Linked DNA regions of Homo sapiens: regions 2 and 3 are each linked to region 1. Evidence: fine-mapped expression QTL. A gene starts in region 1. Each other region holds a variant in brackets. All regions are shown on one strand. Distances are from middle to middle. Region 1 holds the start of NIN (ninein). Region 2 overlaps NIN (ninein). Region 3 overlaps ABHD12B (abhydrolase domain containing 12B).

Region 1 (2,763 bases):
CTAGCCGCTGGAAGCTTCCTTCCCCGACACTCCATACCTCCATGCCACACCTTTTAGGCAATAACCAAATGTCATTTTGTTCTTTCCCCTTCTCCTGGGCATTATACTGGGAAACTGTTTACGCGCATCGACCCCGCACACCTCCAAAAATCTCCACTTTCCGGGCTCCAAGCAGCTCTCCGCTACTCAGACAGCCCAGGCTAACACCTCGGATTTCCCCATGCAGTTTCCTCTGCAGCGTCTCAATCACAAGGCTGTACGGGCGGCACATGCCAACGGAACCACCACCCCTTCTGCTCCCTCGGGGACTCAAGCCTGCTCTCGGTCAAAGCACAGAAGCGGCTTTCAGCTCCGGGCAGGCGGCCGGGGCGTCGGGGGTACTGGAAGTGCCCAAACCCAGCGGTGCTGCCGCGCGGGGAAGCGGAGGTGCGGCCGCAGGACAAGCGCGCCTCCCAAGTCCCTGGCCACCTGCGATGCGTCCTCAACTCGCCTGCCCATCGCCACTACCAGAAACCTCAGACAGCCCATTGTGTGGGCAGGCAGCGCGCTCCCCCGGCCCCGCCGCCCTCGCCTACCTTCTGTCGGTCTCTCCGGAGCGCCCGCACAGCCGGCAGCCCGCCTCCAGCGCTCTGCAAAGCGAAGGAGGACGCTTTGTTAGGGCTGGAGAAACGGGACAATACTTCGCAGCCGGCGCAGCGGTTCCGGGCGGGCGTCCTTCAAAAGGACGCGAATGGGGACCCGCGTGAGCGTCATTTCCATATGTAAGGGGCCAGCTCTTACAAAAGCGCGGCTCTCGGGGGCCGCGGGCTGCAGCGCGCATCCTCCCCGCCCCCGCCGGCCCGCCCCCGCCCGCGCAGCCCGCGCCTCCGGGACCGGCCCCTCCTCCCGCCTCCGAAGCAGCCCCGTCCCCGCCTCGTCCTCCCGCCCGGCCGCTGCTTCCTCCCGGCCCGCAGGGATTGCGCCCCGCTGGCCCCGGACCCCAAATGGGAAGCCCCCGAGTGATCCGGTGCCCAGTTCGCTCCGGGCTCTCAGGGCCTCGCCGACGGCGCGGGGGCAGCGCGAGGCCTCCGTGCACCCCCAGGCCGTGGGTCCGGGTCCCCGGGGTTGCGCCACTTACTGCGTCCCGGGGCTCAGGCGCCCGGCGCCGCCGCGGGAACCATGGCCGCTGGCGCACTCCGGGCTTGGCGGCGGCAGCGGGACGGCCGCGCCCAGCGCGCTCGGCTCCCGGCTCGGCCGCGGCCACCCGGAGCTCTGGACGCCGGGGAGGAAGGGCCGGGCCCGCGCGGGGAGGAGGAGTCAGGGCGACGCCGGCCCCGGCGCGGCTCCTCCTCTGCGGCCCGCGCGGCTCAGGCAGCGGAGGGAGGAGCGGGCGGCGCCGCCTGAGCCCTCGCAGACGCGCCCTCCCGCTCCGAGCGCCCGCCTCCGAGATCTGAAGTTAGAAACGCCGGGGCTCCGGGTGCGGGTGTAGGAGGCTGGCGCCCCGAGGTCGCCACCGAGCTGGGGCTGGCGCTGCCACCCTCGCCCCTTGCCTGTCCGCCTCCCTTTCTTTCCCAACACGCCTACACTCACCCGCACCGCGGACACTCGGGCCGCAGCGTCTTCGCGCAGAGGAAGGGCCCCCGCCTTCAGCAAGCGGGACTTTAAGGGGGTGATTTCCCAGCCCTCGGGTGTCGATTGGCCATCAACATTGGAAAGGGTGTTCAGGAGGCAGAAGGGCTGTAGAAGTGACTCGGAACCCTGTAGAGCGAGCGCGACCCTCCTGCCGGGTCTACACTGGCTTCCGCACCTGCCCACCACGTCCTCACAGGCTCCCGCCCCTGTGCAGCCTTCTCCGGGTGAAGCTAACCCTCGGTCGCAAGCCACACAGGACGAAAACTCCTTGGAGTTGGTGGTTCCCAGCCCAACAGTTGCTCGATATTAATCGCCTCCTACCTACTACCCCAGAGTCTGCGTTCTCACTCCCCCATCCCTACACTTCTGATCTCATTGCAGTCAAATAGGATCCCAAGTCCAGGCCATGGTTCTTTTTGAGCTGCAGGGTTAAATGTGTTGCCCTTGAAGGATCCGCCTGATGGATTACAACCCACAAGTCTGGTTATTTTAGCAGGAAACTGGTGATTCCTTTTCTACCGAGAAAGCAAGCAACAGACAAGAGGAAACCAGCATTCCTTGAGAATCCAGTGCGCTAGAAACTCGACAGAAATTATCTTATCTAATTCTCACATCACTCTTAGGAGGCAGACATTATTTTGCAGATGAGGAAAATGGATCTCCCAGAAGTCAAAGAGCTTCCTCAGGATCACACAGCAGGAACTCCACAGAACTGAGATTCAAAAGCAGATCACATATGTGGCAAAATTGCATAGAACTGAATATACACTCACAAATGAGAGCACGTGAAACTCATGAAATTTGAATAAGACATTTGGACTACACTAATGTCCATTTACTGATTGTAATATTGTTCTACAGTTATGCAAAATGTTACCATTGAGAAAAATTAAGTGAAGCGTCTATAGGGAATCTCTCTATTATTCCTTACAACTTCAAGCGAATTTACAGTTACCTCAAAAAATTTTTTTAAAAATTTTAAACATCTCAGTCTTATTCAAAAGCCCAGGCTCTCTTCTTTCAACACGGTATATAAGCGTGCCTGCAGAATAAGAGAGATTTATGCTCCTCTCTCCTTTTTAAACAGTCTTGAATAAGTACACATACACACACAAACACACACTCATACACTGTATGCATGGTTGTTCAGTC
Region 2 (2,763 bases), 68 kb before region 1:
TCTTTCATCTGTTCAATGACCAGCTCTGCCTCAATGCTCATATTCAATGGATTGCATTCTTCAGAACCGAGCCCTGAAAACACATGGGACTCATTGATCCTGCAGCAGGTTCTTTCAATAACACAGTGTGGCATCTGAGGAGGGACATCCAGTTTAACTAAGGAATGATTTTCAGCCTGAATTACCAGAGATGTGAACTAATAGGAAATAACAGAGGCCAAGAGAAGTCTTTTCTCTTTTCAAGCGTTAGGGCAAACAAGAAGAAATGAAGGTGAACAGATTCTTTCATGTACAGGCAGTGGAAAAAACCTTAATAGAATCCATCTCTTAGAATAGTAGGTGGTGGGGCGGCGGGGGTGGAAATTGTTGCTTATAGGTAGCTACCTCCTAATGCAAATGCTGCAAATTGAGGTAATAGCATGAGGTAGTTTGGTCAAACCAACCAGACTCCTACCCATCCAACAAATACTGAATGACGATGTGGCAGGAAAATGAACGGCCAGCATACTTGCTGCGATGCCCTGAGGAGTTAGCTTCATGGGTCACACTATCAACAACCCATCACTCAGCATTACAGAAGACTGCCTATTTCCTATGAATTTCCTAGAGTGTGGGTAGATCCCCATTTTATCTTATCAGCTATTATTGGCTAAAATTATCATATTTTAGCTATTATCAGCATAATTTTAGCATATTATCAGCTAAAATTTTAAAAAACAGGGCATAGGTTAGGAACCAGGATACAGGCAGTTGTGGGTAGAAATTCTTAACTCATGCATGAGCTCATCTCTGCAACTGCCCACGACGATGACTGAGAATGACACTGAAAATGTGAAGCATAAGTTGGGGGCTGAGCTTGTACACAGAAGAAAAGATTATGACTAATCTCTTAAGGCAGTGGGACCCAAAATAGCTTTGCATGTGGGGATACACAGGCAGATGGAAGAAAGGAACTTTTCTTGGGTATATGTCTAGCAGCTGCAACTGGCAGTCTTGCTTTGGGTCTTCTCTTCATATTTGATGGCATATTCCCAAATGAGAAGTAACACCCAGGGTGTGAGCCACACCACGATGGTACAGCTTCTTGTCCTCATGAGGAACAACCCCAACACTTGGCCATCTATGGAAAAGTCCATAACAGCTGCCGAGATATATCATATTATGAGATCCTCAGACTGGAATGAGCTAAGAATCAGAGGGGAGGTCTTAAGGCCTCTTTGTCTCCTCCTTCCCCAATCTGTTAATTATTCTGCAGTAAGAGGAGGAATAAACAACCTGTGTAAGAACGACACTCCTATCCCCAATAGCACTGGGGAAAGTTATTTATAACAGAATAACTGATTATGAGCTGTCTCTGAAATTTAAACTCAACACCCCCGAGAAAAGAGGTAGGCTATCAGGAGAGAGGAAAGGAGCTCATAGTTAATGCAGGAGGCTCCCAAACTCTGCCTTCCAAACTTGCCACTCAAAATCTTCCTCAAAGGCCAGGAGGCCAGCCCTTATTTATCTTCTTTGTTCTGCTGAGGCAATACAGACATTCAGCACAGCCCGTATAAGAAAACCAGCTATGGATTCTGTAGTATCTGGCTGGCCTGCTCTCCAAAACCATCTTCATATGAGTTACACACTCTCTTCGAAGAGGACAGCAATAGCTCAGTGTCTGAATTCTAACACTCCCAAGGCCTGGATTCCCA[G/C]ATTTGCAGCCAGTTTTTTGTTTGTTTTGTTAACAAAGCAAATACCCTTGTGGTTTGATTCTTCCATTCCTTTGTTGACGCATATCAAAATCAGATGGAAATGTTCTCATAAAAACTTCAAGGACAAATGAAAAACGAGACCACAAGTGAAACAGCTCAAGAAAAGAGTATGGCCAAATTCTTTTTTTTTTTTTTCTTTTTTCAAGTTGCCAAAGCTTTGCAATTTTATATTGAACCACGTTTCTAAAAACAAGAGTAAAGGCTTTATCTACAGCCTGTCCGAATGTGTTTACCGTGTTCGGGCTCAATGCCACCGCTGTTAGCCTCAACTTCTTCTGACGGTGAGTTCTTCAACGGAAGCCTGAGCACTCTGCCTTGTGCACGATATTCTTCCAGCTCAGACTGGAGTTCATCTACTTGGTCTTGTAGTACCTGGGATTTAAAAACCAACACTGGTCTTAGATGTGACACCAAAAGCATAAGCAACAACAACAACAAAAAAGATAAATTGGATATCATCAAAACAAAATCTTTTGTGCTTCAAAGGACACTATCAAGAAAGTAGAAATGTTTTGCAAATTAAGTATCTGATAAGGGACTTGTAACTAGAATATATAAAGACTATTATAGCTCAATAATAAGACAATTTTAAAAATGGGCAAATGATCTGAATTGATATTTCTCTAATGATGATATACAGATGACTAATACATACATGTAAAAGATATTCAATATCATTACCTATCAGGGAAATACAAATCAAAGCCACAATAAGATACCATTTCACACTTACTAGGGTGGCTAGAATCAAAAAGACATACAATAACGACTGTTGGTGAAGAAGTGGAGCAATTGGAACTATCATACTAGTGGGAATATAAAACAGTGCAACCACTTTGCAAGAAGTTTAGCAGTTCCTAAAACGGTTAAACATAGGGTTACCATACAACCTAGCAATTCTACTCCTAGATATATGCCCATACAAAAACGTGCGCACAAATTTTCATAGCTGCGTTACTCATAATAGCCAAAATCCCCCAAATGTCCCTTAACCGGTGAATTAATAAAC
Region 3 (2,763 bases), 44 kb after region 1:
ATCCCAGCACTTTGGGAAGCCAAGGCGGGCAGATCATGAGGTCAGGAGATGGAGACCATCCTGGCTAACACAGTGAAACCCTGTCTCTACTAAAAATACAAAAAATTAGCCAGGCGTGGTGGCACATGCCCGTAGTCCCAGCTACTCCGGAGGCTGAGGCAGGAGAATTGCTTGAACCTGGGAGGCGGAGGTTGGAGTGAGCCGAGATCGCACCACTGCACTCCAGCCTGGGTGACAGAGCGAGACTCCGTCTCAAAAAAAAATAATAATAAAAAAAGAAAAATGGAAAATGTGCTCCAGAAGGAAGTTGGGGGAAACCAAAGGTTTATTTTCCTCCTCATTTCCCCCATTCCACCCCAAGTCATTACAATCCTAGATAGTGCTCAGAAAATGTGCAGGAGTAGGCTGATAAATGTGTTCATTCTTTCCACAGCGTTGGTTCTTTATTATCTATTGGATAGTATTCTAGTCTTGGTCACACAGCAGTAAATAAAACAGACAAAATCCTTGCTCTGTGGAGCACACATTGATTCATTTGCAATTGTAAGTAAAAAAAAGAAAATGAAGTCCTTCCTCTTTCCTCTGAAGCTACCAATAAATGTTGCTTCCTTCTCCCTTACAAAATAAATGCACTCTCTTTCTATTTTCAACCTATGCGTCAATATTTACTGAGCTCAGCCCTGGGCTAGACAGAGGGAAATGTAAAGGAAGCATTCTATGCCATGTTGTTCTTGTTGTCTGTGGCCTGATAGAGTGGAGAAGACAGGGCTAATAATGGGAAAGCCATCACAGAACAATTCAAGGCCAGCTGAGGCCCCGTTATTATTTGTGGGAGGAAAGACAAGAGAGGAGAGGTCACCATGGAATGATCTCTCCAGGAGACTTTGACAAAAAAGAGATACTTCCATGGGTGTGAAGGAAGAGGGGATTTGGTTGGGAGGATGTCTCCCGGTGCTTGGTGACAAACACATGTCGACTGAGTGAATTGGCACACAGGTTGAAGGTACCTGTCTTAATATTTGAAATAGTAAATGTAGTTAGATTTGGGCTTCCCAAAGTTGGTTTGCAGAAACCTCTGAGCATGAGTGATTCACCCTGTAGCAGCTCAGACTCCACCAGCTTTCACCAGTAAGAATCATCCAGTTAGGTTCTGAGTCCCCTGTGGGA[C/T]GCTGTGTGGTTACAGCTGCAGCTGATCAAAGGGCAAGTGAAAGAACACCAAAGCACCAAGGTGGCCGTTTGATGTGGCTGGCCGTTAGCGGGGATTGGGCTGAAACTGCATCCTCTGCTCAAATAAGGTCTATTAGCCACTGGTGACTTTTGATCCCTTACTGATCTAGGGGAAGTCAAATTGACAACCCCTTAGTTAAAAGAAGCTGCTTTGCATTATTGATGCTCTGAGGATCTGGTCACTCTGTTCTCTTCCCGCAGTGCATCTCAGAAAAGTGCCTCGAGCTATTTGAGAGAAGGACTGTGTATGAATTATTCCTTAAAAAACAGACACACATTTCCCTCTACTGCCTCTGCTTCCCAAGCAGACCTTCAAAACATAGCTTAGCGGGAGACTACCCTGCCTACCTTCAAAAGACAGCTTAGCTGGAGACTAACAGGCAGGGTGGAGGTGAGTGAGGGGAGCTTAGAAGGAAGCCAGCAGGAGCCAGCAGCTGGAAGGAGGCACAGTTCAGCCTTGGGTTCAGTTCTGTCCATTTGGGCTTGATCTGTGGCTCAAAGTGGCTTCTCTGGGTTTTGATTTCTTATCTCTAAAATCAGAACAACAATGTCCTCTCCTTCCTGCCGCCTTCATGGCAGGGGTGGTGGGGTGCTATTTTAAAGTATTATGAAACAATCATTTTCATTTCTTTCTTGCTGATTTTATGAGTAGGCAATTGCCAGCGTATGATGTATTCAAAAATCTATCCATTACCCTTAGCCCACATATCTTTTCCACTTCTTGCAGAACTGCTGGAAATTCATCAGAGATTCATTATCTTCTCTCTTCGTGCCTCTTCCAAACACATATAAGTGCTCTGATTTTTAAGTCATTAACACTTCAGGGGGAATTAATTTTTTTAGAGGTCTTTCTTTGATGACTTTGTTATCAGAGGGCTCCTGAGAATACAGGAGCAGGAAGGAGGAAAGAAGAAAGGACGGGACCCTGCTGAGAGGGCTAAGGTGCAGAAGGAGATCTTAAAACAAGATTGTCTATGAGCAGAATTTTGCCAGAGGCCAGCTTTGTTCCTGGGGTTCATTTCTGCTTACATGGATGTCACCAAGACTGTGACATCCTGGAGATCATTATAAGACTATGGGATCAGACAGACCTGGGTATGTGTGGCTCTGCCATTCATTGACTTGTGACCTTGGAAAGATTACTTAACTTTCCAGTCTCATTTGCAAAGCAAAGGTAATAATTATCTTCCAAAAATGCCTCTGGTCTAGCATAGAAATCAGGGCAGGGGAGACAATTTATCAAAAATGCTTTCCAGCCCCTCAACCTTACCATTTGATTATATTAAACAGTTTTAACAATGATCTCTTACAACATGGAAAGGGACTTACTTAATGGATAATGTGGGCAAAAACTGGAAGCAGGAGGTGATGACATTGACCTCCTGTATCCCTCACCTCTCTAAGACCCTCACAAGAGAGGTGGCTTGAGACAGAGGTGTCCTTAGTGACCCCTCATGGACAAATCGTCACTTGTGTGCTGACAGCTCCTGATTGGGTGGTTTGTGTCACAGGGAACAATAGCGTAGGCAAGATGTG

The links. PIP is the estimated chance that this variant, and not a neighbour inherited with it, causes the effect.
Region 2: its variant is fine-mapped to the expression of NIN in fibroblasts (GTEx, PIP above 0.99).
Region 3: its variant is fine-mapped to the expression of NIN in T cells (TOPMed, PIP above 0.99).

Annotation. Positions count from the first base shown.
Region 1 is chr14:50,829,889-50,832,651 of GRCh38, forward strand. NIN (ninein) reads right to left here and starts at 1,274. Exons shown (of 31, transcript NM_020921.4): 1 at 1,118-1,274; 2 at 576-629. RefSeq lists an enhancer at 1-5 and silencers at 576-695, 716-765, 836-1,115, 1,166-1,615.
Region 2 is chr14:50,761,839-50,764,601 of GRCh38, forward strand. NIN (ninein) reads right to left here. Exons shown (of 31, transcript NM_020921.4): 15 at 1,988-2,126; 16 at 1-73. Among named protein-coding and RNA genes, the nearest start is that of NIN, 68 kb to the right of the region's middle. The variant G/C (reference allele first, on the strand shown) is at 1,695.
Region 3 is chr14:50,874,346-50,877,108 of GRCh38, forward strand. The region is part of intron 1 of ABHD12B (abhydrolase domain containing 12B); the gene reads left to right. Among named protein-coding and RNA genes, the nearest start is that of ABHD12B, 3.7 kb to the left of the region's middle. RefSeq lists a silencer at 1,191-1,240. The variant C/T (reference allele first, on the strand shown) is at 1,168.